Homo sapiens: one gene and its partner. The protein of the gene in region 1 purifies or fractionates together with the protein of each later gene. This does not show direct contact. Each region holds a gene or a part of one and is shown on either strand. Other genes may lie near its edges. The genes, in order: MYL10 and MYO19.

Region 1 (14,776 bases):
ACTCTCCTTGGCCTCCTTCCTCCTGGCCTCTCAGGGTCTGAATTCTACCCCTCAACCCACAGCCTCCAATCCTTGGCTCCAGGGACCTGCTCCCCCAACCTCAGCCACCCGATTCCAGGGTCACACCTTAGACCTGCTCTTCTCTTCCTTAAACACTCGGTTCTTGTTTCTTACTTTTCTTTCCTTTCCCTCCCTCCTTCCCTCCCTCCCTTCCCTCCCTCCCTCTCTCTCTCTTTCTTTCTTTCTTTCTCTCTCTTTTTCTCTCTCTCTTGCTTTTTTTCTTTTTCTTTCTTTCTCTGTCTTCCTTCCTCCCTCCCTTCCTCCCTCCCTTCCTTCCCTCCTTTCTTTTCTTTTCTTCTCTTTCTCTTTCTTTCTCTCTTCCTCCCTTCCTCCCTCCCTCCCTTCCTCCCTCCCTCCCTTCCTCCCTCCCTCCCTTCCTCCCTCCCTGCCTTCCTCCCTCCCTCCCTTCCTCCCTCCCTGCCTTCCTCCCTCCCTCCCTTCCTCCCTCCCTGCCTCCCTTCCTCCATTCCTCCCTCCCTCCATTCCTCCCTTCTCCCTTCTTTTCTTCTTTCCTCCTTTCCTTTCCTTTCTTTTCTTTATTTTTTTTTCTTTTCTTTTTGTTGATACAGGGCCTCAGGATCTCTCTCTATCACCCAGGCTGGAGTGCAGTGGTGCAATCACAGCTCACTGCAGCCTTGAACTCCTGGGCTCAAGTGATTCTCCTGCCTCAGCCTCCCAAGTAGCTGGGACTACAGGTGTGTGCCACCATGCCTGGCTAGTTTTTTTGTATTTTTAGTAGAGATGATGTTTGGCCATGTTGGCCGGGCTGGTCTCAGATTTCTGACCTCATGTGATCTGTCTGCCTCGGCCTCCCAGGGGCCGGGGTTACAGGCATGCGCCACTGCATCTGCCCAACAGTTCCTTAGATATAACACCCAAAGCACGAGCAGAAATAGCTAAAATAGACTTCATCAAAATGTAAAACTGTTGTACATCAAAGGGCACTATCAAGAGAGTACAAAGACATCCTACAGAATGGGAGAAAATATTTGCAAATCACATATCTAAAAGGGTCCAGGCTGGGCGTGGTGGGCTCTTGCCTGTAATCCCAGCACTTTGGGAAGCCAAGGTGGGAAGACTGGTTGAGCCCAGGAGCTCAAGACCAGCCTGGGCAGCTCTCCAAATAAATAAATAAATAATAAAATAAAATAATATAGAAATTAACCAGGTGGGGTGGCTCATGTTTATAGTCCCAGCTACTTGGGAGGCTGAGGTGGGAGGATTGCTTAAGCCTGGGAGATTGAGGCTGCAGTGAGCTGTGATGGTGCCACTGCACTCCAGCCTGGGTGACAGGGTGAGACCCTGTCTCAAAAATAAATAAATAGACAAATAAATTAAAATAAAAAGATCTAGTATCTAGAATATATAAAGAACTTCTAAACTCAGCAACAAAAAAGTGTAACACAATTTTAAAATGGGCAATGAACCTGAACAGATTTCTCCCAAGAGATACAAATGGCCAATAAAAACATGGTAAGATGCTCAATGTCATTATCCATTAGAGAAATGCAAATCAAAACCCAAATGAAATACCACTTCATACCCATTAAGATGGTTATAATTTTGGAAGAAAAGAAAAACAGAAAATAACAAGTGTTGGCAAGAATGTGGAAAAATTGAAACCCTTGTACATCACTGGTGGGAATACAAAACGGTGTAACCTTTTTGAAAAGCAATTTGGCAATTCCTCAGAAAGTTAAATATAGAGTTACCATATGAACCAGTAATTTCACTCCTAGGTATATGCCTAAGAGAATTGAAAACATGTATTTACACAAAAACTTGTACACAAATGTTCATAGTAGCGTTATCCATAATAGCTAACAGAAATATCTCAAATGTGCATCAACTGATGAATAAACAAAATGTGATCTATCCATAAAATGGAATCTTATCTGGCTACAGAAAGGAATGAAGCCAGGTGTGGTGGCTCATGCCTGTAATCCCAACAATTTGGGAGGCTGAGGCAGATGGATCACCTGAGGTCAGGAGTTCGAGACCAACTTGACCAACGTGGTGAAACCCTCTCTCTACTAAAAATACAAAATTAACCAGGCGTGGTGGCGTACGCCTGTAATCTCAGCTACTCGGGAGGCTGGGGTTGGAGAATCACTTGAACCCAGGAGGCAGAGGTTGCAGTGAGCCAAGATCATGCCACTGCACTCCAGCCTAGGCAACAAGAGTGAAACCCTGTCTCAAAAATAAATAAATAAATAAACAAATAAAGTCTACAACAAGGATGAACCATGAAAATGTTATGCTAAGTGAAAGATGCCAGACACAAAAGGCCATGTATTGCAGGATCCTATTTATATGAATGTCCGGAACAGGCAAATCCATAGAGACGGGCAGTAGTAGCTTCATGGTTGCCAGGGGCTGAGTGCAGGAAGAATAAGGAGTGACCACTAATGAATTTCATTTTGTGGTGATTAATATTCTGTTTGTAAATAGTGGTAAAAGGCAGGGCGCGGTGGCTCACACCTGTAATCCCAGCACTTTGGGAGGCCGAGGCGGTTGGATCACCTGAGGTCAGGAGTTCGAAACCAGCCTGGCCAACATGGCAGAACCCCGTCTCTATTAAAAATACAAATGTTGGCCGGGCATGGTGGCACGTGTCTGTAATCCCAGCTACTTGGGAGGCTGAGGCAGGAGAATCACTTGAACCCGGAAGGCGGAGGTTGCAGTGAACCGAGATCACGCCACTACACTCCAGCCTGGGTGACAGAGTGAGACTGTCTAAAAAAAAACAAAAAAGAAGGGGGGGGTTTTATGGTATGTGAATTGTATCTCAATAAAAAAGTTTTTTTTTAAGTATGCACTCTTTCGCCTCTTTTTCCATACAACATAGTATATATGAGCAATCAACCAAACTGTTGTGTACATCAGTAGTTTGTTCTTATTGCCATGTGGTATTCCCATGTATGAGTGCCCTATCATTTATTTTTATTTATTTATTTATTTATTTATTTTTTCAGACAGGGTCTCGCTGTCGTCCAGGCTGGAGTGCAGTGGTGTGATCACAGCTCACTGCAGCCGCCAACTCCTGGGCTCAAGTGATCCTCCCACCTCAGCCTCCTGAATAGCTGGGACTATAGGCATGCGCCACCATGCCAGGCTAATTTTTAAATTTTTTTTTATTTGTAGAGATGGGGTCTTGCTATGTTGCTGGGACTGGTCTCAAACTCCTGGCGTCAAGCAATCCTCCTGCCTCGGCCTCCCAAAGCTCTGGGACTACAGGCCTGAGCCACTGTGCCCGGCCTCTTTTCAGATCTTTATGGCCATTTGGATATTATTATTGTCGTCTACCTTTTTTGGGGTTATAATCTTTCTATTATAGATATGTAGGATTTTAAAAAAATACATCTTCTGGATATGAGATCTTGTCATGATCTACGTTGCCAGTATCTTTTCTCGTCCGGTGCCTTTTTGCATTCTTAACTGTATCTTTTGGTGAGCAGAAGTTTTTAATTTTGATGAAGTCCAACTTATCCACTTTTATGATCACAGTTATGTGTGTCCCATTTAAGAAATCCTTGCCTACCCCCTAAACATCCCTTGAAGCCACCTCTTCCCTTCTGACGTCTTCACCTCTAGCCAGCTCTTTGCAGCCAGTTTTCTCCCGTGCTTCTCCATTCTCCTCCCACCGATGTCCCCACCCCACTTTTTGCCCCCTCCTCTGCCTTCCTCACTGCAGTCAGCACCATATCCTGCCCAGGGACAGTCCTGGCTCCTCTGAGAGTCCCTGGGACCAGCACAGCCTCTGGCATGCACTAGGTGCTTAATAAAAGCTCCATAAATGAAGGCAATATCCCGTGGCTTAGCAGGGAATCGTTAAAACTGTCAATTAGCTCTAAACACCAGCTCCTCGGGAACATTTGAGCAGAGCCAGAGGAACAAAAAAGGTTTGGAAAAACCAACAAGATAGGAATGTTTCGTTTTCTCCCTCGCTGGAGCATTTACCGCACAAACTCAGACCTCATTAGCATTATTTATTCTTGCTTTGTCCCCAACCGTAGGACAAGGGAAGCCTTTTTCCTGCAGCCTCTGGCTGCAAGAGCTCCCTGTCACACCCCACAACAGTGTTTGCTGCCCCTGAATGTCGGGGAGACTTGTGATCCCCTAATCCTTCTCTTCACCGTGAGTGATGACGTAGCACAGGTTTCTGTAGTCCAGGTTGCCGCACACATCTGGGGGAAATGCTGCAAACATCTGCTTGACCTGAGAAGGAGCAGAGAGTCAGCCTGCACCAGGCCAAGTGGGGGCCAGAGCAGAGAATCCGCCGTGACCCACCAGAATCCCAGTTTACCTCCTCCTCACTGAAGCGGTCTGCCTGGGTCATAAGTTTTTCTTTGATGCTGTTCAAGGGAGAGACACAGTCATGTTCAGGGAACGGGATACCCAGCTTGAACATGCAGATCCCAGGGGTGATGAGGGGCAAGTGGGGGCAGGGGGACATCCTGGACCAGGAGGACATCAACCTGGGGCTGACCCTGCCAGCCCCCCCGATGGCCAAGTAGCTTCTGAACCTCGGTTTTCTCCTCCATGAAGTGGGCTTTCCTCCCAGCATCAGGTAGGGACCAAAAGCAATGACCTGGGGACCCCACCATGAGGGCTACTCTGATTTCCCATCATGCACTATAATCAAGCTCTGGATCATTGAGGGGAGACACCTCAGGTCCCCCACCGCAGAGCCTCTTTTGCCTGATTCTGGACACACTCTTTCCTCCAGCTTGTGACGTTCACTGACACCTGCATAGTGTTTTAGAGACAAGATGCCTGTGCTCTGCCAAGGGTACAGGAAGGCCTGCCCAGGTCCGTGTCCTCCTGGGCCTGCAAGGGCCTGCCCCCTCAAGCTTGGAGGGTCCTGCAGGGTTCTTAAGGGAGCTCAGTGGGCAAAGATGGGATCAGACGGCTGAGTGGGGCCTCGTCCACCCAGAGTGTCCTCTGGCACCGGCTGCGGCAGGCCTCGCTAAGGACCAATGCACATTTTCCATTATTTATGTTTCTGTGGGACAGTCACAGTTTCCAGCTCTCCAAGCCGGGGACTTTTCACAGACTCTGTTTCAACCAGAGCCTCCACCGTGGCCTGTCTGGCCTGCCTGGCCTGCAGCCACAGATCCAGGTCCCATGTCCCAAGGCAGTGCCTTCAGTTCCCAAATTAGGTCCCCAAAGGGTCTTCCCAGCCTTGTCCTTGCACTGGTGAGAGAGAAAGTGGTTGACAGTAGAGGGAGGGCTTGGGGTTACTCCGGGGGTGACTCTGATGCCTCCCCAGGTCCCCAGGATGGAGGTAGGAGCCACAGACCCCGAGGGAGGGGTGAAGGGGAGGACTGTGGACTGCAGCAACCCTCAGCATCCCCTCCCCATCCCAGGGGAGTATGTGACTCATGGTCTTGGAGTTGAGAATGTGTGAGACGGGACAGACCCTCTCCACCTCCACCCCTGCTGCGTCTGCCCTCTCCCTTTGAGATGCGAGAATCTCAAAACCAGCAAAACTAGCCTCAAAATGAAGGCTGGCAGCATTACAGTAATTGATCAGGAAGCCTGGGCCTGGGGAGGAATCTCACCTGCCCCAGGCCACCCTCAGGTCCAGCAAGGTTCTGAAGGGACTGCGTCGGCACAGCTCAGAGGTCAGCCCTGAATCTTGGGTCCTGGGAAGGCTGCCACTCCCCCGCCCACTCCTGCCTGCAATTCTTGGCTCTCTGTTCCCTTGCTGTCACTGGGTGGGGCACCCCTACCCTCATGATGGCAGCCCCGGTGCCTGCCAGACAGCTGCCTGCAGCCACTTCCCCTTCATGCATTCCAAGTGAGCTGGTCACTTTCCCCAATCCTTACTGCCCTCTTGCCCGAGGCGGTGCTGGCTACGATCTGGCTCAGTCCTCTCCCCAGACCCTGGATCCTATGGGCACTGGCCCCTGGCTCTTTGCTTATCTGTCCGCCCGACTCCATCTCGACGGCCATGACCCTCCTGGGAGCTGCAACCCTCTCCTCTCCTTCTCCAGGCTGGCCTCCATGGTGTCCTTGCCTAACTCCTCCTCAGGTTCTCCCATGCTCCCAGGGCAGACGCAGGGTCCAGGGGCTAGGGTGTGAGCGCTCCCCCAGAGGCCCCGCCTGCCGCTCTGTGCTCAGTCTCCCCTACACCACCTCCACCCGCACCCTCCAGCTGCAGCCAACTCTGAACAAACATGCACATGCCAAGCCCTGGCCCTCCAAGCTCTCTGTTCCCTCATCTAGAATGCTGTTCCCCCCCTAGCCTGGGCAACCTGCAGTCATTCTTCAAGATCTGCCTTTGCCCCCACACCCACCCCACTAGGAAGCTCTCCTGGAGTGACCCACCACTTCTTCTTTTTTTTTTTTTTTTTGAGACAGTCTCACTCTGTCGCCCAGTCTGGAGTGCAATGGCGTGATCTCGGCTCACTGCAACCTCCACTTCCTGGGTTCGAGCGATTCTCCTGCCTCAGCCACCAGAGTAGCTGGGACTACAGGCATGCACCACCATGCCTGGCTAATTTTTTTTATTATTTTCAGTAGAGATGGGGTTTTGCTGTGTTGGCCAGGGTGGTCTCAAACTCCTGGTCTCAAGTGATCTGCCCACCTCGGCTTCCCAAAGTGCTGAGATTACAGGCGTGAGCCACCGCGCCCAGCCTGACCCACCATTTCTTATCCATTTCTACTTCCACGCACACATAGAGAAGGGGACACCAAGGCCCAGAGAGGGGAAGGGACATCAAGCGATATCACTGGGCTGGGCAGCGGCCCCCCAGCTCCTGGCTTCTGGGAGAGGAGACTGGGCGACCATCCACCCTGACCCCAGCCCAAAGCTGGCTTATTCCCCTGAGCATTTTGGGGGAGTCAGGGGAAACTTACACATCGGCCTTGACGAAACCTTTCCCTTCAGTGTCGAACACTTTGAAGGCGTGGAGAATGGTCTCCTCTGGGTCCGTGCCTATAAGCAGCACATACAGGGCAGGGAGAGAGGCAGGTGAAGAGGGCCCCACAGGGACAGGCACAAGGCTGGGCAGGGGCTGGGGCTGGGGGCAAGTCCCACGGCCCCTGCACAGAGGCACAGCTCTGGGGAACTTCTTCCCCAACTTTCACTGCACAGCGAGGGCCGAGCTCACTTGAAGCAAGAACAAGGAGGGAAACAGGTAATTGTAATCATAGACAAGGGTACCACATATATATATTTTGTGAACAACCTGAGCAACTGTACACGGAGACCCTGATTGAGCATTTAATTTGTGCTTAGCCCTTCCCTATTTTACAGATGGAAAAGCTGAGACCCAGAGAAGTTAAGTGACTTGCCCAGGGTCTCACAGCTGCATGACCAGTGGTCTGGGTGAGGGGGCATGACTCTGGGGCTCACGTGTTACCCAAGCTGTGCACAAGAGGCCGTGGGTGGAGGAAAAAGAGTTCTGTACGTGGATGCCAAAAGGCTGGGGCTTGGGCAGTGTGGCATTGGAGGGGTCTGAGAGAGATTGTCCCGGCCAGAAGTGGGGCAGGTGGGCCAACAGGCCAAGGGAAGGGATTCACGGGGGCAGAAGTGAAGCCAGAGAAGTTCTGCTTTTATCCCGGTCACAGCACAGCCTTGGGGAGAGATGTCATTAGAAGAAATTAATCTGATACCCACAATGGGATTGAATGTGCAGCCCCCACATTGCACCAATGGGAAACTGAAGCCCAGAGAGAGGAAGGGTCTTGCCCAAGGCTTCACGGGCTGCGTGAATGACAGCAGGTGACCTGGCCACCCTCGCCCGGTGCCCTTTCCCCTTCTGTCACCATGTCCCCCTTGTTCACTGTGGATGCGGGGGTGCCCCCTTCCTTTCTTCAGTGCTCAAATGTGTCATTGGTGAAAGGGGACAGAGATGGTGCTTGCTACCCACCTCACAGGAGCAGCTAAGATAACATACCATTCATGGTAAGGTTTTAACGAACATGGGTTGATCAGGGCTGCAAATACATCTGAGCGCTCTATGCCTGCAGCTTTAAGATTTTATCCCCTGGAGCTCTGAGAGCACCCATGGAGTAGATGTGGATATCTTGGTTTATCATAGAAAAAACAGGCTCAGAGATGTTTCATTACTTGCCCAAGTCCCCACTGATAAGAGAAGGGAGGATTTAAACCCACCTCTGTGGACTCCAGAGTCCCCTGCTCCTTTTGTCACCCTGTGCTCTTGCCAGTCAGATTAGGTCAGCCAGGGCCATGTGCCTCCCTCATCAGACTAGGTCAGGGCCATTTGTTCCTCCACCATCATACTAAGTCAGGACCATCTGTGCCTCCCCCATTAGAGTGGGTCATCGCCATCTGTTCCTCCTGCATCAGACTGGGTCAGGGCCATCTGTGCTTCCTCCATCAGATTAGATCAGGGCCTCATCTGTGCCTCCCCCATCAGACTGGGTCAGGGTCATCTGTGCCTCTCCCATCAAACTGGATCAGGGCCATCTGTGTCTCCCCGATCAGACTGGGTCAGGGCCATCTGTGCCTCTTCCATCAGACTGGATCAGGGCCTTCTGTGCCTCTTCCATCAGACTGGGTCAGAGCCAAGTGTGCTTCCCCCCTCAGATTAGATCAGGGCCTCATCTGTTCCTCCCCCATTAGACTGGGTCAGGGCCATCTGTTCCTCCCCCATCACACCAGATCAAGGTCATCTGTGCCTCTCCCATCAGACTGGGTCAGGGCCATCTGTGCCTCCCCCATCGGACTAGGAACTAGCCAGGACTGGGCAGTGTCTGAGTCTCTGGGCATCTCTGAAACTGGCACAGAGTGAAAAAACCTGGCACACACTGGCCTTGCTGGCCTGGGAACTCCTAGAGGGCAGCGCCATGGACTGCCTCTGGGCAGGGTGGCAGGGAGCTGGTGTGCCCAGCAGAGAGGCTCAGCCCAGGGTGCAGCGAGGGCAGGGCTCCAGGCCCTCACAGCCTGGCCAAGCAGGCAGGGGGTAGCAGGTGCCTCTAGGCGGGTGAGGGTTGAGTGACCAGAGCATCACGTGGGGCACCCATGTGGGATTTGCCTCCGAGGCCACAGCCTCCCAGGTTTCACTGATTAGTTGAAAATTCCCAACGTCTTTGAAGAGGCCTCACTGCTGAGGCAGGTTTGTGGCCGGCTCCAGCCTATCCCCCTGCGGACAATGCACATGGATTTAGGCACCCAGCGCAGCCCTGCCACTCCCTGTTACCGTGGCTGGCAGTCCTCCCTTCTCTCCTCCCCAGAAAGAGCCTCTGTTCTTGAGACTGCAAACCTCATAAAATCTGCTATAGAGTGGCCACTTCCTCCCATCATCGTTGGGAATCTCATGACACAGTCTCCTCTTCCCAATTAGCGGGGTGAGGCGGCGCCGGCCCCAGCACCCTGCCCTCCCGGCTCCTGTCCCCTCCCACCAGCCTCTCACGCAGTCTGGCCACGTCTGCATGACAGGCTCAGCCGGAGCCCCAGTCCCGGCGCCCCTGCAAAAATGAGAAAAAGCTGCAGCCCTGCAGCCCACACCAGGCCCTGGATCACAGCTTCAGCTCAACCATGGACCGACACGAGCTTTTAGTCTCAATCTTCCCATCTGCGAAACAGGTTTGGGGCCCACTGTGAGCTGACAGAGTCCCCTCCCCTTCCCCTGAGCACTCTTGGAGGTCTCTCTAAACTCCTGCTCTGGCAGCAGGGCCCCTCGCCCATGCCCAACACCAGGGGCGGGAGGTGCTCACAGCCTCACCTCCTGGGCCCGGCCCTGGGCCGTCCACCCTGGCAGAACCACAGGCCACTTCCCCAGGCCCTCCCACTGGCCTTTAACACGCCTCCTTCAGTTATGTGCCTGTGGATAAAAGAATCAGGCCTGTCTGCTTCCTTTGAAGTTGCTGGCTGGAGTCACACATGTCTTTTCCACAGAGCATTCTTCTCTCCCGGCCTCCTGGGCTTCTGAGCTCTTCCAGGAGGCGCACATGGTCCTGGGAATAGGCCCCGACAAGCTGCCTGGAGGTGGGCCCAGTGATGCTCCTGATTCGGCTACACAGCCCCAAGTTCAAAGCCTGCTCCAGATGAGCCTGCCCTCCCCAGCCCTGGGTTTCCTCATCTCTCGCACCCAGGCTGATGGCTGCCTTCCTTCTGGCTCTGGATCTGCCAGGACACGGTGCGTGGAGGCTGCTCTACCCCACAGCAGGTCACGACCCATGACAGTACTGATTTTTCACCCCATCAAACCTGTGATGTCAGGTCGGATCACCCTGTGGTGGACTGAATGGTGGCCCCTAAAAAGAGACGTCCACCAGAGGCCGGGCACGGTGGCTTACGCCTGTAATCCCAGCACTTTGGGAGGCCGAGGAAGGCGGATCACGAGGTCAGGAGATCGAGACCATCCTGGCTAACACAGTGAAACCCCATCTCCACTAAAAATACAAAAAAATTAGACGAGCGTGGTGGCAGGCACCTGTAGCCCCAGTTACTTGGGAACCTAAGGCAGGAGAATGGCGTGAACCCGGGAGGCATAGCTTGCAGTAAGCCAAGATCACACCACTGCACTCCAGCCTGGGTGACAGAGCAAGACTCCGTCTCAAAAAAAAAAAAAAAAAAGATATGTCCACCAGAGCCTGCAAATGTCACCTTATTTGGAAAAAAGGACTTTGCAGATGTAAGTTAAGCATCTTGAGATGCAGAGATCATCTTAGATTATCCCAGTAGGACCTGAATCCAACGGCAGGTAGAGTCCAGGCGCGAGGGCTCATGCCTATAATCCCAGCAGTTTGGGAGGCGGATATGGGCGGATCACTTGAGGTCAGGAGTTCGAGACCAGCCTGGCCAATGTAGTGAAACGGTATCTCTACTAAAAATACAAAAAAATTTAGCGGGGCATGGTGGCGGGTGCCTGTAATCCCAGCTTCTTGGGAGGCTGAAGCGTGAGAATCGCTTGAACCTTGGAGGCGGAGGTTGTCCTAAGCTGAGATGGCGCCATTATACTCCAGCCTGGGCAACAGAGTGAGACTCCATCTCAAAAACAAAACAAAATAAACAAAGAGGCAGGTGGAGGGAGGTTAAATAGAAGAGGGCGGGGCCATTGACGGCGAGGCTGAGATGGGAGAGGTAGAGCCACCAGAGGCTGGGAGAGACAACGGATTCTCCCCAAATCCTCTGCCAGATTTCGCACTTCTGGGCTTCAGGACTGTGAGAGAATACATGTCTGTTGTTTTGAGCCACCTGGTTTCACAGAATTTGTTACAGCGGGCTCAGAAAACTATTATAAGCCCATTTTACAGACCAAAAAACTGAGGCCAGAAAGCAGATAAATCTGTGCAAGGTCAACCTAGGAGTCAATGGGAAGCCAGGGTCTGACCCTAGGCCTAGCCAAGGCAGGGGGTTCAAGGGAGGGGGCCTGGCAGGGGCAGCCTGAGGGTGCAGAGCTGACAGTGCTCACTTCCCAGGGACCACTGCCTGGGCTGACCCTTCCTTTTTTTTTTTTTTTTCTTTTTTTTTTTGTAGTGGAGTCTGTCTCTGTCACCCAGGCTGGAGTGCAATGGCACCATCTCGGCTCACGGCAACCTCTGCCTCCCAGGTTCAAGCGATTCTCCTGCCTCAGCCTCCCGAGCAGCTGGGATTACGGGCACCCACCACCATGCCCAGCTAATTTTTGTATTTTTAATAGAGACAGTGTTTCGCCATGTTAGTCAGGGTGGTCTTGACCTCCTGACCTCAGGTGATCCACCCACCTCCGCCTCCCAGAGTGCTGGGATTACAGGCATGAGCCACCGTGCCCGGCCTTGGCCCTTCCTTCTGACCACGGAACCCTCAAGCTCCAGGATGTCACTATGGGAGAGCTCCCCCGAGGCCAGGACAGAAAGGAGACACAGATGGCTCCAACCCTCCACCCCATGCCTAATGCTGTGTCTCGGGCGGGTACAGTGGTTAGAGCCAGGGTTTGGGGTTGAGGTTGCATCCCGGCCACTTTTTGCTGGAGCATCTGGGGCAGGGGTCGTGACTCCTCTGGATCTGAGTCTCTTCATTTGTGAATGAGGCTCCCCGATCCTTCCTCTGGGGGCTCCAGTGACCACAGAAAAAGACAAGGGGAGTAACTTGCCCTGCACAGGGGTCGACCACAGCATCTTTTGGAAACACCCTCCCTCCGGCACCCTCTGCCTATACCCCCAGCCCCATGTGCAGAGCGGGTAAAAGGAGCTCACAGGTAGGAAGGTAGGGAGGCAGCATGGCTGGGGGCAGTGGGATGGGTGGGCAAAGGGGTTAAAGGCAGTGTTTAGTTTTTATGGTTGTTGTTGTTGTTGAGACAGGGCCTTGCTCTGTCACCCAGGCTGGAGTGCAGTGGTGCGATCTCGGCTCACTGCAACCTTCACCTCCCAGGCTCAAGTGATCCTCCCACCTCAGCCTCCAAAGTAGCTGGGACTACAGGCATGTGTCACCATGTCTGGCTAATTTTTGTATTAGTAGAGATGAAGTTTCATTATATCACCCAGGCTGGTCTCAAACTCCTGGACTCAAGCAAACCGCCCGCCTCAGTCTCCCTAAGTGCTGGGATTACAGGCGTGAGCCACCATGCCTGGCCAAGGCAGGGGTCTTTATAGTTACCCCAGTCTGCGGTGAAGAGAGGGAAACCGAGGCAGGGCCCCTGAAGGTGCGTGCACCTGGGGGCTGGTGTCTGGGGCCACATCATGCTCCCACCTGTGGTGTGTATGTGTGTCAGGCCCCTGCCTTCCTACATCCGTCCCCCTGCCATTCCCTGCTGCCCCTCCAGGACTCCAGGAGCCTGGCTCACCCTTCAGCTTCTCCCCAAACATGGTCAGGAACACCGTGAAGTTGATGGGTCCGGGGGCCTCCTTCACCATGGCCTCCAGTTCCTCGTTCTTGACATTGATGCGGCCTGTGGGAGGTGAGAGGTGGGGGCAGGGAGGATAAGAGAGATCAGAGCTTGGGCCTCGGAGGATCCCACAAAGCCTCCCCACTCAGCTGCTCCACGTGCCCCCCACTCAGCCCTAAGGCCCTGACGCCTTTTTGGGGGACTCTTTAGGGGGCATTTGGGCCACAGTCAGCTTCCGGCTGCCCCCAGCCTCATGAGAAGGGAGCAAGTCACTCTCATCCCCATTTTACGGTGAAGAAACTGAGGCCCAAGAAGCTGCAGCTGAGGTGCACGGGGGCTGCAGGCTCAGGGTTCCTGTGCCCCAGGAGGGGATCAGTGGATGCCTGGATGCTGGGATTCCCTGTGGTTCCAGGGGACACTCAGATTCCCAGGGGATCAGGGCCTGGTTACGTCCGTTCTGCCACCTAAACCCTGCATAGGCGACTTCAGGCTCTTCCCTGGGGCCTTAGAGGGATCAGAAACCTCAACCTGGGAGTTGGGTCTTTCCCTCTGACTCAGCTTCTCCCCTGCTTTCCTGGCCCCTCCCCACACCCAGGGTCCCCTACACCAGGCCCAGGCCCAGGCCCAGGCCCATGCTGCTACTCCTGTCCCTGAAGTGTTTTCCCCTTCCCTGGCCGAATCCTTCTCCAACCCCCCAGGAAGGTCCCCCCCTGACTTTCCAGACAGTGGCTGCCTTTACCCTGTGCTCCCCAGCACAGGAGCCTCTCACGCTCACCGCGAGCCCTGCCCTGCTGGCCCCAACCGCCCACTCTGTCTGGCTGGCCTGGCCCTAATCTCCCCCGGCTGCTGGCTCACCCACCCAGCGCGGCAAAGGTGTCCCTCAAGTCCTCTTTGTCGATGAAGCCATCACGGTTCTGGTCCATGATGGTGAAAGCCTGGCAGAGACACAGGTGCTAAGTAGTCACCTGCCCTTCCAAGCCCGGCCACCTCCCCCAGGGACCGTCCTCCTGCCGACTGCTGCCCAAGGAGCCTCGGGGCAGGTCCCTCTGGCAGCCCAGCTGGGATGGGCTCCATCCCCAACCCCTCATTTCAGGCTCACAGCAACTCCAGTTTGCAGACAGGGAAACTGAGGCTCAGAGAGAGAAAAGTCTGGCCCGAGGTCACACAGCAAGCACAGGGTCAGGTACAGAGAGACAAAGAGGCTGCCTGAGGGCAACAGGTCACTCACCCAGGCTCTGGGCCATGGCCATGGTGGCCTCAAAAAATAATGTCATTGGCCAGGCTTGGTGGCTCATGCCTGCAGTCCCAGCAATTTGGGAGGCAGAGGCAGGAGGATTGCTTGAGGTCAGGAGTTTGAGACAAGCCTGGGCGAAATAATGAGACCCTGTCTCTACAAAACATTAAAAAATTAGCCAGGCATGGTGATGAATGCCTGTAGTTTCAGCTACTCAGGAGGCTGAGGTGGGAGGATGGCTTGAGCCCAGGAATTTGAGGCTGCAGGGAGCATTGACTGCAACACTGTACTCCAGCCTGGGTAACAGAGCAAGACCCTGTCTCAAAAAAAAAAAAAAAAAAAAAAACCTAATCATTTAAAAATGTAGTAATGGGCGCTGGGCACTGTGGCTCACGTCTGTAATCCCAGCACTTTGGGAGGCCGAGGCGGGTGGATCACCTGAGGTCAGGAGTTCCAGACCAGCCTGGCCAACATGGCAAAACCCCATCTCTACTAAAAATTCAAAAAATTAGCTGGGCATGGTGGTGCGTGCCTGCAATCCCACCTACTTGGGAGGCTGAGGCAGGAGAATTGCTTGAACCCGTGAGGCAGAGGTTGCAGTGAGCCGAGATCATGCCATTGCGCTCCAGCCTGGGCGACAGAGCCAGACTCTGTCAAACAAACAAATAATAATAATAATAATAGTAATAATGACATCTTC
Region 2 (15,309 bases), on another chromosome or scaffold:
TAACCCTACCCTCACTCACTTCTCTCACATCGTCTGCTTTCTACCACCTCTCAGTCCTTGCATGTACCGCCCCACCTTCCTGGGATACTCTTGACTACTGCCCCATCAGCTCCACCTCACTCCCATCCTCCACGCCCCTTTTCCTAGTTTAGTCCTTCTCATCCTTCAGACTTTAGCTTTATCACCACCACCTCGAGGAGGCACCTGGAAAACCAGGTTTGATTAGCACCTTCCTACCCAGCCTCAAACACACCCCCGAGGGTGTTCATCCAACATGTGTGGCCCATTGGAGTGAGCTCTGACATGGCAGCAGGCAGCCTGTGGCACAGCCTCCAACACACAGGATGAGCTGAGTGATAACAGTTGTTGCTGGACGAATGGCAAGAAGTTTTGAGATTGTTCTTTTCTAAGAAGATTGCTCTGGGGAGAAGTGGGGAGGGGAAAGAGGAGGAGATTGGATTCAGGGAGAACAGTCAGGGAGGATCACAGGTTTAGAAGGGTCCCTTAAGACAGAGGTGAGGAGCATGGGAAGTTGGGAGAGGAATGTGCTCTGAGCCTGCTCGTTGAGAGCCTGCAGCAGTCATCCCTGCACAGGAGATTCTTGGTCTCAGGATCATGGAAGGGCCCGCTGGAGGCATTTGATGTAGTTACTAACCAGAGCCCAGTTGATGGCCCTGGGCAGCCCCTCTCCCTGCCTAACCCCATGGTCTCTCATCTGCAGGCCTCACTGGAGCAGCTTCTGCAGGTCCTACACAGCACCACGCCCCACTACATTCGCTGCATCAAGCCCAACAGCCAGGGCCAGGCGCAGACCTTTCTCCAAGAGGAGGTAATTAACACCGGGCCAAAGCTGCTTCGCACCAAACCCCATCTGGCCAAGGCCCTGGAGAGATGAAGGGCAGGACATCTGTTCCAAATGGAGTGCACAGAAGTGGTCTCTCCGGCCAGGCCTGACATGAGAGAGGACCCATCTCCCTTGCTGTGGCAGGGCAGGCATGTATGGTTGTGTGGTCTGTGCATAGTAGCCTAGCCAGGGAGGCAAGTTCCAGTGCATCTTGTTTTTTTGAGCCATGTACCCTGATGAGAGACTGAAACTGCCCAGAGGAATGGGTGTCTCGTGATTAGCTGAAAGTCTACATCACCACACAGTCCCCGCACAGTGCAGCCATTTCTCACTGGAGGTATCATTTTTTTCTTTTTTTTTTTTTTTTTTGAGACTGAGCCTCACTCTGTCACCCAGGCTGGAGTGCAGTGGTGCAATCTCAGCTCACTGCAACTTCCGCCTCCCGAGTTCAAGTGATTCTCCTGCCTCAGTCTCCCAAATAGCTGGAATTACAGGTATGCACCACCACACCTGGCTAATTTTTGTATTTTTAGTAGAGATGGAGTTTCACCATGTTAGCCAGGCTGGTCTCAAACTCCTGACCTCAGGTGATCTGCCCACCTCAGCCTCCCAAAGTGCTGGGATTACAGGCATGAGCAGCCACTGCACTCAGCCGGTATCATTTTTTTCTAATCTAACAAAAGCACTCTAGCCAGCAGCTGCCCTTTTCTTGGGATTCCAGGTTCTGAGGGATGTGGATGAGGGGTGAATGCTGGGCACTGCTGAAGGTGTGGCCTGGTAGATGTGGCCTTCCGGTTTGTAGCCAGGACAACTCAGCTCTGTGGTAAAGACCTGGGTTCAGGTCACAGAAGAATCTTCATAGTATAATCTTCCCTGCCTCTCAGCTGTGAACCACCCTCTAATGCCTGCAGACAGTGAAAACAATCCAAACTGGAAATTTGCCTGGGCTGGGTTGTGTGGTAGTGAGACTACACTGAGGGCAGGGTGAGACGGAGCCAGGACATCACTTGCTTCAGCTGTATCAGAAGCCATGCGTCGGATGAGGGGGACTTGGGACCACCAGGACCCTTTCTAGTGGGAGATTTGTTTTCAAGGTCCCTCGATTTCTCACAGCCCCAAGGAGATACCCCCATTAGCCAAGCCTTGGGAGAGCCTGCAGCTTGGCACTGGCCAGGGTCTAAGAAGAAGGGCTGAGAGAATGGCATTTCTGGCCTGCTGGCCCCATGCTGCAGGTGCCTGCCCTGTCTCCCCACCCTTGCAGGTCCTGAGCCAGCTGGAGGCCTGTGGCCTCGTGGAGACCATCCATATCAGTGCTGCTGGCTTCCCCATCCGGTGAGTGGGCTCGATCACGGCACAGTGCAGGGCCAGTACAGAGTGGGGCTCAGGACTCTCATTGGGCAAGAGCCTGCCCAACCCAGAGTGAGATGTGGAAATGAAGAGAAAGAGGCTGGTCTGTAGAAGTCAGCTGGGAACTAGGGAGCAGCACCCATTCGTTCATCCATTCACTTATTGTGCACTATTTTGTACCCAGCTGATGGCTGTGACAAAAGCCACACTGGTACAATGTTGGGGACAGAAGCCAGACTCAGGAGGGCTGACAAGCAATTGGGAGGAAGTGCAGATATCAGGTGCCAGCAGCTGTCTGAGAAGTGTTGCCTTGATGAGGAGCAGGGAGATCTGGGGGAGGCAGAGGAGACTGTGGGGTCAGAGAGGTCAGAGGGGAGATGTGGCCAAGCATGTCTGCGTCATAGGACTGGTCCAATTGTTTGGGGAGAGGCCTGTCAGCCCCTTTGGAGGGAGGCAGCCCGCAAATCCCCTGCTAACACAAGAGATGCTTTGTGTTGGTAGACCAAGGCAGCAGGGAGAGCAGACCCATTTTAAATAGTCTTTATGGGTTTCCAACTAAGTGATCCTAGAAATCGCTTCAAAACCACATTCACATTCAGTGGGGATACTCGGGGAGGGCAGCACCGTGCTGTGTTGTTGAGCAGATTAAATAGAATAACTTCTGATGAGCCCTGAACCGTTAACCTGGCTCACAGATGAAGTAATTCTCTACTTCTGCCTGCTTTGGCCTCCAGGGTCTCTCACCGAAACTTTGTAGAACGATACAAGTTACTAAGAAGGCTTCATCCTTGCACATCCTCTGGCCCCGACAGCCCATATCCTGCCAAAGGGCTCCCTGGTGAGTGGGACCCATGAGTTAGTCATTTGTGCAACCACAGTTTACTGAGCATCTACCCTGTGCCCTGTCTTAGGGCTAGGGGCTGGGGCTTACTGGTGAATAAAACACAGCCCTGGTTTTGGTTCAGTGGGGGAAACAGATTCAAAAAAGACAAATAGCATGGAAAGTGGAAAAGCAGAGCTATGAGCAGGATGCTGTGGGTGGTGCTAGGGAGGTGTGAATTGGGGAAGGCTTCCTGGAAGAGGTAGTATCTGAGAATAAATTGGATTAGCCAGGTGATGGGTGGTCCACATGATAAATGTAATCTGAACAAAGGCCTAGAGGCTTGAGGCAGCAGTGTGGGTATGAGGAACTCCAGCCAGTTCTGTGTTGCTGGTTCATTGAGGCAGAGAACTGGGGCAGGTGAGGCTGGAGTGGCAGGTAGGGCTCCATCAAGGAATCTGGACTTTATTCTCTGGGCAGATGAGCAGGCACTGCAGGGGAAGGAGCAAATGACTCTTATCAGCCTCACACTTTCTGGAGACCACTCTGGGGGCACCATGGAGGGCTGTGGGATTGAGGCTGCAAAGTTGCCCCAATAGAGAGAAACAAGAATTGTGGGCACAGTCGGGAAATATTTGTTGGAAGAAACTGGTCAGTCTTGGTAGGGGCTTGACTAGATGTAGAGGGAGAGGAAAGGAGTAAATTAACTTAGCCTGGGAAGTGAGGAAAAGCAAGAGGAAAAGAGGTTCAGGGAGGCTGAAGAGCCCGGGCATGGGTGACTTGTCCTGCAGGTCCAGTGAAGAAGTCTGCAAGGCACTTAGGCAGGCTTTAGTCTCAAAGGAAGGATCTGGAGGCCCTCATATGGGGGTTGTCGGCATGCAGATAAAAGAGAGGCTGTGGGAGCCACAGGGCCCAGACACAGGCAGAGGGAGAACAGGCCAAGGACAGGCTGCCGGGGGGCCCCGCCTCGGCAGGACCCCAGCCCAGCACCTCTGCCCCTCCCACCCAGCCTTACCCTGGGCCCCTCACAGCCATTGGGGCAATCCTGCTTTGTTTCCTCCCCTCCTGGGCAGTTTTCACTTTCCTTTCACCCTTTCTCCTTTCTTCTCCCTCTCCATGGTTTGCTGTCCTGTTCCGTGTCTCTTGCCCATAGCCCTTCTGGCCCCTGGTTGATTTTGCTGCTGTTTCTCATCTGTGGTGTCTCCTTTGGCAGCCTCTGTCTTCAGAGAGGCACTGGGCATCTAAGGTGGTCAGAGCCCTCAGGTAAATCCTACCTCTCCAGGAGTCAGCTCTGCGAGCTGCGGGAGGGCAGGCAGTGGGACACGGGACCTTTGCAGGGCTGGGATTTTTTAAATTTATTTTTTAATTTATTCTTTTTATTTGCAGTAGAAGATTCCCAAACTAAGGGCTGGGATTGGATCTCCCTTTTCCCATACATGGTGGGGAGTTGAGGGGTCGGGGCTGAGGGAGTGGCCTATAGCTGCCCTATTTGGCCCTCAGGATGTGTGTTTGGGCCTTGGAAACAAATGCTGGCTGAGCAGCCTGGGATTCCAAGCTTGGAAGGAGTCACCCTTCCAGGTGTCAAGCACCCTCTGCCAGCCTGCCCAAAGGGACTCATGGCAGTAGAGGCTGTGGGACACCCCAGGACACACAGGCGCAAGTGGGTATTCCAAGGCTCCACGGAACAGCTAGCACCCTGAGGGACAACAGAGAGGCTGTTTGTGGCTTCCTCCAAAAGAAGAACAAGGAGAAAATGGCTAGAGCCAAGAACAGCAGGAAAGAGACCTGTAGAGTGCTAGGGAGGCCAAAGCCAGTTTCTTCAGGCCACAGAGGCATGTAGAGATGACCATGCACTGATGGGGCCATCTCCCTCCCCCAGAATGGTGTCCACACAGCGAGGAAGCCACGCTTGAACCTCTCATCCAGGACATTCTCCACACTCTGCCGGTCCTAACTCAGGCAGCAGCCATAACTGGTGACTCGGCTGAGGCCATGCCAGCCCCCATGCACTGTGGCAGGACCAAGGTGTTCATGACTGACTCTATGGTGAGCTGGTTTGGGGATGAGGAGGTTACAGAGGCAAGCTGTGTGCTCTCCTCAGCAGGAGGGGGCAGGGGGAGAAGAGGCTGCCCTCAATGGATGCCTTTTCTCCCAGCTGGAGCTTCTGGAATGTGGGCGTGCCCGGGTGCTGGAGCAGTGTGCCCGCTGCATCCAGGGTGGCTGGAGGCGACACCGGCACCGAGAGCAGGAGCGGCAGTGGCGGGCCGTCATGCTCATCCAGGCAGGTAGGTGGGCAGGTCACCTGTCAGCACTGCTCACAGACCCCACAGGATGTTGGTTTCCTTTGAAACATAGCTCGTCGAGTCCCCATCTCCTGAAGCTGTGTCCCAGCCTGAAGAGATGTCCCTGTGGTGTGCTGGGATTCAAATTCCCTGTCCCCCTCACTCATAACGTCTCTCCAGTTCAATGGAAACCAAGTCACTCCACAAACAAAGGTGCTCTGTAAGAAGTGGAGGCTAAGCGTTGTCTAAGCGTTGTCTTTAATTCCTTTCTCAGACCCTGACAGCTGTTTAGGCCAACTTTTTTTCCCTTTATGACAACTCAAACCATTACCTGCTGGGCTCTAGGGCTGGAATGAATTTAAGGAGAAGGTAAAAACCAAAAGGAGTTCATCAGATGAAAAGATGTATTAACCAACATGTTCATAGTGGTCTTATTTTGAAAAGGAAAAGTGTTGGAAAGAACCCAAATATCTAACAGTGGTGACATCATGGCCAAATGATGGACTGGACCATCCCTATGATGCAGCTAAGTGTTTTTGAAGAATATTATAAATTTAATGGAGAACCACTTCCAAAATGATATTCATACCTAGATGTCAAACTACATATTAAGGGCGATGCCCTCCTTTTAAGGTGTGTTTGTGTGTGTGTAGGCATTAAAAAATTGTATAAGGAAGCTGGGCACAGTAGTTCGCTCCTGTAATCCCAGCATTTTGGGAGGCTGAGGTGGGAGGATCACTTGAGCCCAGGAATTTCATACCAGCCGGGCAACATGGCAAAACCCTTTCTCTACTAAAAATACAAAAATTAGCCAAGTGTGGTAGTATGCACCTATAATCCTAGCTACTCAGGAGGCTGAGGCAGGAGAATCACCTCAACCCAGGAGGCAGAGGTTGCAGTGAGCTGAGATTGCACCATTACACTCCAGCCTGGGTGACAGAGCAAGACTCTGTCTCAAAAAAAAAAAAAACAACAAAACATAATTAACCGTGCCTGGTGGCACATGCCTGTAGTCCCAGTTACTCCAGAGGCTGAGGCAAGAGGATTGCTTGAGCCTGGGAGATTGAAGCTACAGCCTTACGGAGGCTACAATAAGCTGTTCGTGCCACTGCACTCCAGCCTGGGCAAGACCCTGTCTCAAAAAAAAAAAAAAAAAAAAAAAAAAAAAGAAACAAAAAGAAAAAGAATATGCTGAAATTGCAGAGAAGGGAATAAAAATTACCACCATCTATTAATTGTATCAGTGTTTGGGTATATGGTGATGTGAGATCAGGGATGCATAAAGCGAACAAATTCAACTGAGGATTAAAAACAAAACAAAAAAAAAAGTTTTTAAAGGCACAGACAATCCAGACCCCTCCCATTCCCTGGGTGCTGACCTGGACCCAGCCTGAGACGGGAAGTGATTGCTGGGCCCTCAGCCAGTCCTTCTCCCCAGTGCCCCTTCACTGTGTTGTGTAGGTGTATTCAAGTGTGTGGGCAGTGTAAGGAATGTTTAAAAGCCAATTTTGCCTTATGTATTGATTTTAGAACCTTATTTGTAGCAATTTATTGAAAAAAAAAAAACGTATTTGAAACTTTGACAGCAACTGTGGTGCTGCTGCAGCGAGGTCACTGACAGCTCTAATGGCCCCTTTATTATCTCTTTCCTGTTTCTGGGCAAACCTCTTAGCCATTCGTTCCTGGTTAACTCGGAAACACATCCAGAGGCTGCATGCAGCTGCCACAGTCATCAAGCGTGCATGGCAGAAGTGGAGAGTAAGTAAGACCCAAGAAGTCGGGGTGGGCAGTGGATCAATTTTGGGGACCAGATGGACCCGAGTGGGAATGCTGGCTCTGCCACTGCAATGCAGGTGGCCTTGGGCAGGTTGTTTAGCCTCTCTGAGCCTCATATTCCTCATGTATGCAGTGGGCACAGTAACACCTACCCTGCAGGGTGGTTATGTAGGTGAAGAGTGGTATAAGCAACTCTGGGAATATACCAAACTCTGGGATGTACACTTTAGAAGACTGGGTTTTATGGCATATCAGTTATATCTTGATGGACTCTTATCTTGTTTTCAAGTAGCATATGTAAGGCCTAAGCACAGTTGCCTGGGGTGTATAGACTTGTGGCATATGGAACCAGTTTGGTTCAGGGCAGCCAGCTGTTTGCAACCAGGTGCCTTCAGTTCACCTTGTTAAGATGATTTGTTAAAGATAGTTTTGATTTCCATTTTCTGCTAAGAGGGCTAGATAAATCTAAAGCTATAAAGGGATATTTGCTTTTTAAGATCAGAATGGCCTGCCTTGCTGCTAAAGAGCTGGATGGTGTGGAAGAAAAACACTTCTCTCAAGCTCCCTGTTCCCTGAGCACCTCGCCGCTGCAGACCAGGCTCCTGGAGGCAATAATCCGCCTCTGGCCCCTGGGACTGGTCCTGGCCAATACGGCTATGGGTGTAGGCAGCTTTCAGAGGAAATTAGTGGTCTGGGCTTGCCTCCAGCTCCCCAGGGGCAGCCCCAGTAGCTACACTGTCCAGACAGCACAAGACCAGGCTGGTGTCACGTCCATCCGAGCGCTGCCTCAGGTACGTTGTGTGTGATGGCCATGACAGCTTTGTTCCTGAGAACAGCAGGAGCAAAGCCTACAAGTTCACAGCGGGAATGAGACTGAGGCTGGGACAAGATCCATCCCTAACCCTACTGGGTAAACCAGAGGGCTGCATGTCCCAATCAGCTGCAGGTTTGGATTATTTATTTTGTTATAACTGGGAATCTTCCAGAGCCCTTTATCTTTTTAAAAACTGCTTCTAATTATTTCAGCATCTCTAAATCTTCTAGTCCCATTTCCAAATGCAATGCTGCGTTTCTAGCAAGCTCCCAGCTGATTCTGATGCTCCATGAACCACACTGTGAGAACCAAGGCTTTAGATGAGTCAGGAGCAGGAGGTGATGAAAGTTTAGCTTAGGGCCTGGAGCGGTGGCTCACGCCTATAATCCCAGTACTTTGGGAAGTCGAGGCGGGTGTATCACCTGAGGTCAGGAGTTCAAGACCAGCCTGGCCAACATGGCGAAACCCCATCTCTACTAAAAATACAAAAATTGGTTGGGCGTAGTGGCAGGCGCCTGTAGTCCCAGCTGCTCGGGAGGCTGAGGCATGAGAATTGCTTGAATCTGGGAGGGAGAGGTTGCAGTGAGCCGAGATTGCGCCGCTGCACTCCAGCCTGGGTGACAGGACGAGAGTCCATCTAAAAAAAAAAAAAAGTTTGGTTTAGGGTAATAATAGGTCAATTACAGAAAAGAGGAAAAATTCACGAGACATAGCAAAAAAGAAACTACCCAAGACTTGAGAGCAAATAATCTAATTAGTCCCACATCACAACTTGGGTTGTGAGGAGTTTGTTACCTCAAATGGCACTGGATTTGGCACCATGTTTTCCCCAAATTGTATTGCTTGGTTTTTTCCTTTTCTGGCTGACGAAATGACAAGCAGGGTCAGTGGTCCAAGTTCTCTGTGGGTTTTTTTTTTTTTTCATGTTATTTAATTTTTTGAGACGGAGTCTCACTCTGTCGCCCAGGATGGAATGCAGTGGGTTTAAGCGATTCTCCTGCCTCAGCCTCCCGAATAGCTGGGACTACAGGGCATGTGCCACCATGCCTGGCTATATTTTTTTTTTTGTATTTTTAATAGAGACGGGGTTTCGCCATATTGGCCAGGCTGGTCTCAAACTCCTGACCTCAAGTGGTCTGCCTGCCTTGCCCTCCCAAAGTGCTGGGATTACAGGTGTGAGCCACCGTGCCCAGCTGTTTTTATATAAGCATCCAGGGAAAAGTCAGCCAGCACACTCAGGAAGTCATTGTCACTCAGGGCTTTGTGAGTCACCCCAGTAAGCCAGGCCTCATAGAATTAAAGTGGCCGAGGAAAGGTGAAAGTATGTTGCACTGGGAGGTAGAACCCCAGGGTCTGGATCCTGGTTCTGCCCCATTCACTGGATGATCTTGGCTAAGACACATTTTCTCGGAGCCTGTCTATAAAATGGGCTAATACTCAACCTACTGCATGGAGTCACAGCAAGGAGTAAGTGAAATGACAAGGCAGAAGGAAACACCAAATTTCCATTCAGAGGAATAACTATAGGCCTTAATCTGGATGAAGTCTCCCATGAAAACACACAGGCCTGCTAAACAGAAGGGTAAATGTTTTGCCCTTCTGGCTTTAAGCAGTCATAGGAATGTGACAGACATTCCTCTTAGGGAGCGCCTCCTCCTAGGGTTTCCTCATCTGTCTCACACTGAGTGGATGTAATGCTATTTTAATCCTGCTGTGGCCCCCAATACTAGTACTTGTCCATACCTTCTTGCATTTTTAGCGTCTGCTCTGTGGGGTTGTTAGGCCCTGGCACTCCCAGGAACTAGTGCTAAAGCTGCATCTCTCTCTCCCCTCTAGGGATCGATAAAGTTTCACTGCAGAAAGTCTCCACTGCGGTATGCTGACATCTGCCCTGAACCTTCACCCTACAGCATTACAGGCTTTAATCAGATTCTGCTGGAAAGACACAGGCTGATCCACGTGACCTCTTCTGCCTTCACTGGGCTGGGGTGATCCTTGGTGCCTTTGTTTCCACAAGGCCTTTTCCTGCCCCCTGCCTTGCCAAAGACATTTAATCAGCACACAGCTGCCAGACTATTCCCACAGTGCTCCAAATGCACATGAACAACAGTGACGGCTCCAGCCTTCGACCCAGAGCCCCGTGCCCAGTGCGTCAGTGGGCCTGGGGTTCCAGGCTACATCAAGCACTGATGGTGTCAGGGCTGGTAGTTACCAAATCAGGGTTAAGAAACATCAGGGCCACATTTCACTACCTTCACAGATCAAACTCAGCAGCAGTCATGACTGTCTGTCACTACACTGGGGATCCCAATTCCACATAAGCACTTTTGGAAGAAAACAGCCAAAGTTGGCCTAAAATTGGCGCTGGAATTTGGGCTGGGAAAAATCTTGTGGTTATTTCCTTTAAAAAGGAACAAAACTTTAGTATTTAATTAGTTGATTTATTTAATGTAATTTCAAACAATTAAATTATGAATAATGCAATGTACAGTAGAATCACGTTTTGATTTTATTAACACTGACCAAGTTTAACTCCATATGAAGTGTAAGCTTGATATCGTTTATGATGTCTATCAACTGTACCAAAAGTAAAACATTTAAAAACAATCATCTGAATGTCAAGTTTTCTCTCCATAAAGGACTTGCCACCTTAAGGACCCCAAGTCTGCCTGAAACATGAGCCACATCAATGCCGGTAAAGGCCTGCATGACCTAATCTGCATCCTGGAAACCTCTTTTGCCTGAGCTCCCCAGCCCCAAACTAGCTGGTCTGGGAGAGGGAGCAGGCAGGTTCCAGGAGTCAAGCACACGCTTGAGCAAGCAGCACAATAATCCATCTTAAGACTCCTCATTCTGGGATGGCTCCACAATTCCTAAACAGCAGTCTGCAAACTCCACAAACAAAGGCTCTTGCATGTAAGCTCTCATGAGCTTTGCTTTGTCTTCTCCCTGATCGAGGTTGACCATCAACTGCCTGAGGTGTGGATTGAGCAATAAGCTTCTTAATGTTGCAGATTCCCCTAAAAATTAACAAGAAAAAAAGCCAGTCTGAGTTCAAGTGGAAACACATGGAGATGGCTGAAAAGTGAAGAGCTATTTCAAGTGTAATAAAACTATCAGCAAGGTGTGGTGGCTCATGCCTGTAATACCAGCAACTGGGGAGGTCAAGGTGGGCAGATTGCTTGAGCTCAGGAGTTCAAGACCAGCCTGTGCAACATGGCGAGACCCCACCTCTATAAAATGAAAGGTAAGACCAGCATATCAAACTATTTCCGCATTAAATGCAGTAACAGATACCAGTTCTTGGTATCTTTGTAAATATTGTAACTTCGTGCCACTTCAGCTAAGAAAAAAATGCTTTATCAGCACAATCACAAAGCAAATAGTAGCATTAAGCTGCTGGCATGTTTTCTTTCTTTCTAGCCATAAAAGTTGCCAGTGGTGAAGACGGCTATACGAAATAATCTGAATGATGTCTAAGCATGCCATTTGGCATGCAGCAGCACCAGTAGCAGGGAACCAACAATAATACCTGCATGGTACTTCACAGTCTGTAAAATTTTTCACACCTATTACTAGCTCATCTCCAAACTCAGTCTAACTAATCATTACCATGAGACTAAGTGCAAAACATAACCTTTTAACATGATTCTGTGAAATGGGAAGAATGAAATTAACAGACCCCATGCACATGTAACAGAATGTTGTAAGGACTGAATAAGCAGTGCTACAAAAATGGCAACACCTGTTTCCCCCTAAATCAAATCATGTGATAACCAGTTTGTGTTAAGGGCTGGACTGTGAGCTGAGCACTGGGGATCTGGGAATACAGGTCCCTGCTGTACAAATCGGTATGTGAGAGACAAATTACCATGAAATGTAACAGTGATTTATTACTATTAAGTCCAAGTTGCTATGGGAAACCAAAAAAGTGCCTAATTCTGAAAGAGACACAAAAGGTCAAGAAAAGCTTAGCTGAGTGAAGAAAACTTGAACCAAGGCTTGAAGGAGGAGCAGAATTTTGCCAACCCACAAGACCAGCAGGATTCCAGGCAGAAGGAATGGTGTGGGCAGGCTGGGAGGTGTGAAACCCTGTATGTTTACAGATTATGTGGCTAGATAGTAAGAGCCCTACATGCCATACTTATTCAAGAAATTAAAAACTTTTTAAAAAATCACAATCCTTACAACACAGTAAATGTATCTCAACGATTGACAAGCATAGCACAGACTTACCTAAATTCTTTAAATTCTGCAAAGAAACTCTGTCTTCTTCCTCATCACTATTGAGAAAATCAGCTATAGAGTCATCATCATCTAAGGAATACAAAACAGTCAATGGCTCATGGCTAAAAAGGAGGCCTGGGCACCAGATTTTAACCACTACTTGAACAGGATAAAAATGTGTGCACGCACATGTGATAGTGATAGGGGTATTCAAGCAGGTACAGACAAAAATCCTCTTCTCCGGAGTCTGTGACTATACTAACACTCCTTTTTTAGAAGAGGGAGGCTAAGTGAAAGAATTGGTGATTTTAACAAATGCACTCTAGTGTTCACATCCTTACTGTATATGTGGTCCTGTGGTCTTTAGGCTTAGACCCCGGTTGTCTAATAACTTAATACCCATCCCCACCTCAACATGGCTCCAACCCTGTGATGGGCCAATTAACTGGATGCTCTGTAAAAACCAGCCAAGTAGAATCTCCTGTGCTTTCAGCATGGGCAGAAACTGCTGGCATTGCCTGAACCCAACCTGGAAATTTCTCAAAGGGCAAAAATGGGCCATGCCTTTGGAGTGAATGTTCAATACCTCTTTGGTGGCACCAGAGGGGCTGCTTTCAGAGCCTGGCATGGTGCTTGACACCCAGGAGGTATTAAAGAACGTTTAGATGGCTGGACGGATGGGTTGACAGCCCACTACTGCTGTGAGCTCTGAACCCCCAGCAGCAGCGAGATGATCTAGGACAAAGAAAGCCTCCTGCCTGGGCTGAGTTCAGGTGAACTGACAGTCCCAGCCAGATTCATGGAGGGAGACCAGCAGCTATGGGCTAGAGAAGGCTCCTGCCAGCAGGGCCCACCGCAAACCCCCAAACCACAGCCATGGCCTTTCTCATCTCTGTCTTCTGCCCATTTTTCTTCTCCTGAATACTGCTTTCAGGCTGTTGCCTCAATATCACCCATGATGACATGGCCCCACTCCTGATGCTCAAGGCTAAGGAAGCTGTTCCTTCCCAATGAAGCTATTGTTCTGGATTCCCTGACCAGCCCCACTCTCCCCTTTTCCTTCGACTTATTCTATGTGAAGTCCCTTGTAGATTTGTTTGAAGTCAACCAACCCACCTTTGTTTTCCACAGGCTTTACGGTTTTGGTAGGAAGAGCTGATCTTATTTTTTTCTCAACAGGACGAGTTTCAGGGTTGCACTGTTCTGAAAAAGACACAAATCCCAGGCCCACATTACCTCCATTTCAGCGACAAGGCTGCACCTCCCTACCAAGGTAGCATCTAGGTAGGAAGCAAGTGTCTGGGGTAAGGGATGTGGGTGGGTGCCCAGGAATGTGGAAGAAGTGAGAGATCAAAGCAAGAGAGAGATTAAGGAAAACCGCCAGCAGGCTGAGAAAGCAGGACTCATTCATGCACCCCAAGAACCTGTCCCCATCCTCCCTACCCTGCCGAATCTTACAAAATTCTCACCACAATTAACTGAGGTGTTTGAAATAGCTGCTGTAAACCAGATACCAGATGGGATAAAACTAGGGGCAAAACCACCAAAGAACTTACAGAGTCAACAGAAGGCCAGCTGTGCTGGCTCACGCCTGTAATCCTAACATTCGGAGGCCAAGGTGGGAGGATCACTTGAGCCCAGGAGTTTGAGACCAGCCTGGGCAACCTAGCAAGACTATGTCTCTACAGAAAATAAAAAAAATCATCCAGGCATGGTGGTACACACATGTGGTCTCAGCTACTTGGGAGGCTGAGGCAGGAGGATCCCTTAAGCCCAGTGTGTCAAGGCTGCAGTGAGCTGTGATTGTGCCACTGCACTCCAGCCTGGGTGACAGTATCAACAGAGCATGAAGTCACAGGAAAGGGTTCTGAGGACATAAAGGCAGGACCAGATTGTAGAGACTTAAAATGTAGATTTGACAATATGCTACGGAAAGGTTCTAGTCATGTAGGTGGCAGTTACAACAGCTGCCAGTGACTAAGTGCCGAGCACTGTGCCAGGTACACAGTGAGATACATAGTGGCTCAATGAACCTTTACGAAGCCCCCATGACATGGAGACTGTTAATTCCACTTACAGATGAAAGGATTAAATTTTCTTGTAATAAACTTGTCCATTGGGGTCCACAGCTAGTAAGTAGCAGAGGCAGATTTGGAATCCGGGTCTAACTTTACGGCTATGCTATATGTGTAAGGAACACAGCAGGAGGGACTGAAGGAGAGGTGAATTTTCTGGGTTGTACCTGACCCCAAAATACATTTGTGTCTAAGGTGCTCAAAAAGAGGCTGGAGCTAAACAGTTGGATGTCAGCAAGAAAAAAAAAAGTTTAAAGTGAAAGAGAGATCACCTACCTAGGAATAAAAGTCAAGGACCACATTTCAAGAGAGAGATCTAGCAAAAGGAAGGAGAAGCTGGGCACAGTGGCTCCTGCCTGTAATCCCAGCAATTTGGGAGGTTGAGGCAGGAGGACTGCTTAAGCCCAGGAGTCCAAGACCAGCCTAGACAATACAGTGAGACCCTGTCTCTACGAAAAATAGATAAAGTTTGTCTCCGTTACTCAGGAGGCTAAGGTGGGAGGATCACTTGGGCCCAGGAGGCCAAGGGTGCAATGAGCTGTGATCACACCACTGCACTCCATCCTGGGCAAAAGAGCAAGACCCTGTCTCGAAAAAAGGAAAAAAAAGAAAACGAGAGTCTACAGCTAAGCCACCCTGAATGCACCCTATCTCATCTGACCTCAGAAGCTGTAACAGGGTCAGGCCTGGTTAGGACTTCGAAGGGAGAAAGGGAGGAGAGAATACCACAGAGCGGTATCTTCCCAGCCTCCAAAGAATATCAAGAAAGAAAAAGCCAAACACAGCAGATATTCATGGGAATCAAGAAAGATGACAGGCTGAGCATGGGTAGCTCACGTCTGTAATCCCAACGCTTTGGGAGGCCAAGGTGGAAGGATCACTTGAGCCCAGGAATTCAAGACCAGCCCAGGCAATACAGTGAGACTTCATCTCCACAAAAATTAAAATTAAAAATAAATAAGCCAGGCATGGTGGCACACGCCTGCAGTCCCAACTACTTGGGAGGCTGAGGTAGGAGGACTGCCTGAGCCCAGGAAGTCAAGGCTATAGTGAGCACCACTGCACTCCAGCCTGGGTGACAGAGCAAGACTTTGTTGCAAAAAAATAAAAAAGACAAATGAAAA

What was found.
Region 2: the proteins of MYL10 (region 1) and MYO19 purify together in Homo sapiens (affinity purification with mass spectrometry; 3 studies listed by BioGRID and IntAct, with this or other methods). This does not show direct contact.

What each region holds. Positions count from the first base shown.
Region 1 is NC_000007.14:101,609,296-101,624,071, forward strand, and holds the end of MYL10 (myosin regulatory light chain 10), read right to left. Parts: intron 14,727-14,776; coding exon 14,625-14,726; intron 13,778-14,624; coding exon 13,702-13,777; intron 12,906-13,701; coding exon 12,801-12,905; intron 7,004-12,800; coding exon 6,925-7,003; intron 4,416-6,924; coding exon 4,367-4,415; intron 4,279-4,366; coding exon 4,180-4,278; 3' UTR 4,035-4,179; downstream 1-4,034.
Region 2 is NC_000017.11:36,490,817-36,506,125, reverse strand, and holds the end of MYO19 (unconventional myosin-XIX), read left to right. Parts: intron 1-721; coding exon 722-829; intron 830-2,105; coding exon 2,106-2,176; intron 2,177-2,925; coding exon 2,926-3,029; intron 3,030-4,164; coding exon of another isoform or gene 4,165-4,184; exon of another isoform or gene 4,185-4,267; intron 4,268-4,890; coding exon 4,891-5,057; intron 5,058-5,166; coding exon 5,167-5,296; intron 5,297-6,813; exon of another isoform or gene 6,814-6,965; coding exon 6,966-7,051; exon of another isoform or gene 7,052-7,566; coding exon 7,567-7,860; exon of another isoform or gene 7,861-8,359; coding exon of another isoform or gene 8,360-8,520; intron 8,521-9,719; coding exon 9,720-9,875; 3' UTR 9,876-10,490; downstream 10,491-15,309. Other genes in the region: ZNHIT3 (zinc finger HIT domain-containing protein 3), read right to left, coding at 10,722-10,903, 12,120-12,200, 13,227-13,313. UniProt on the Homo sapiens protein: Actin-based motor molecule with ATPase activity that localizes to the mitochondrion outer membrane. Motor protein that moves towards the plus-end of actin filaments. Required for mitochondrial inheritance during mitosis.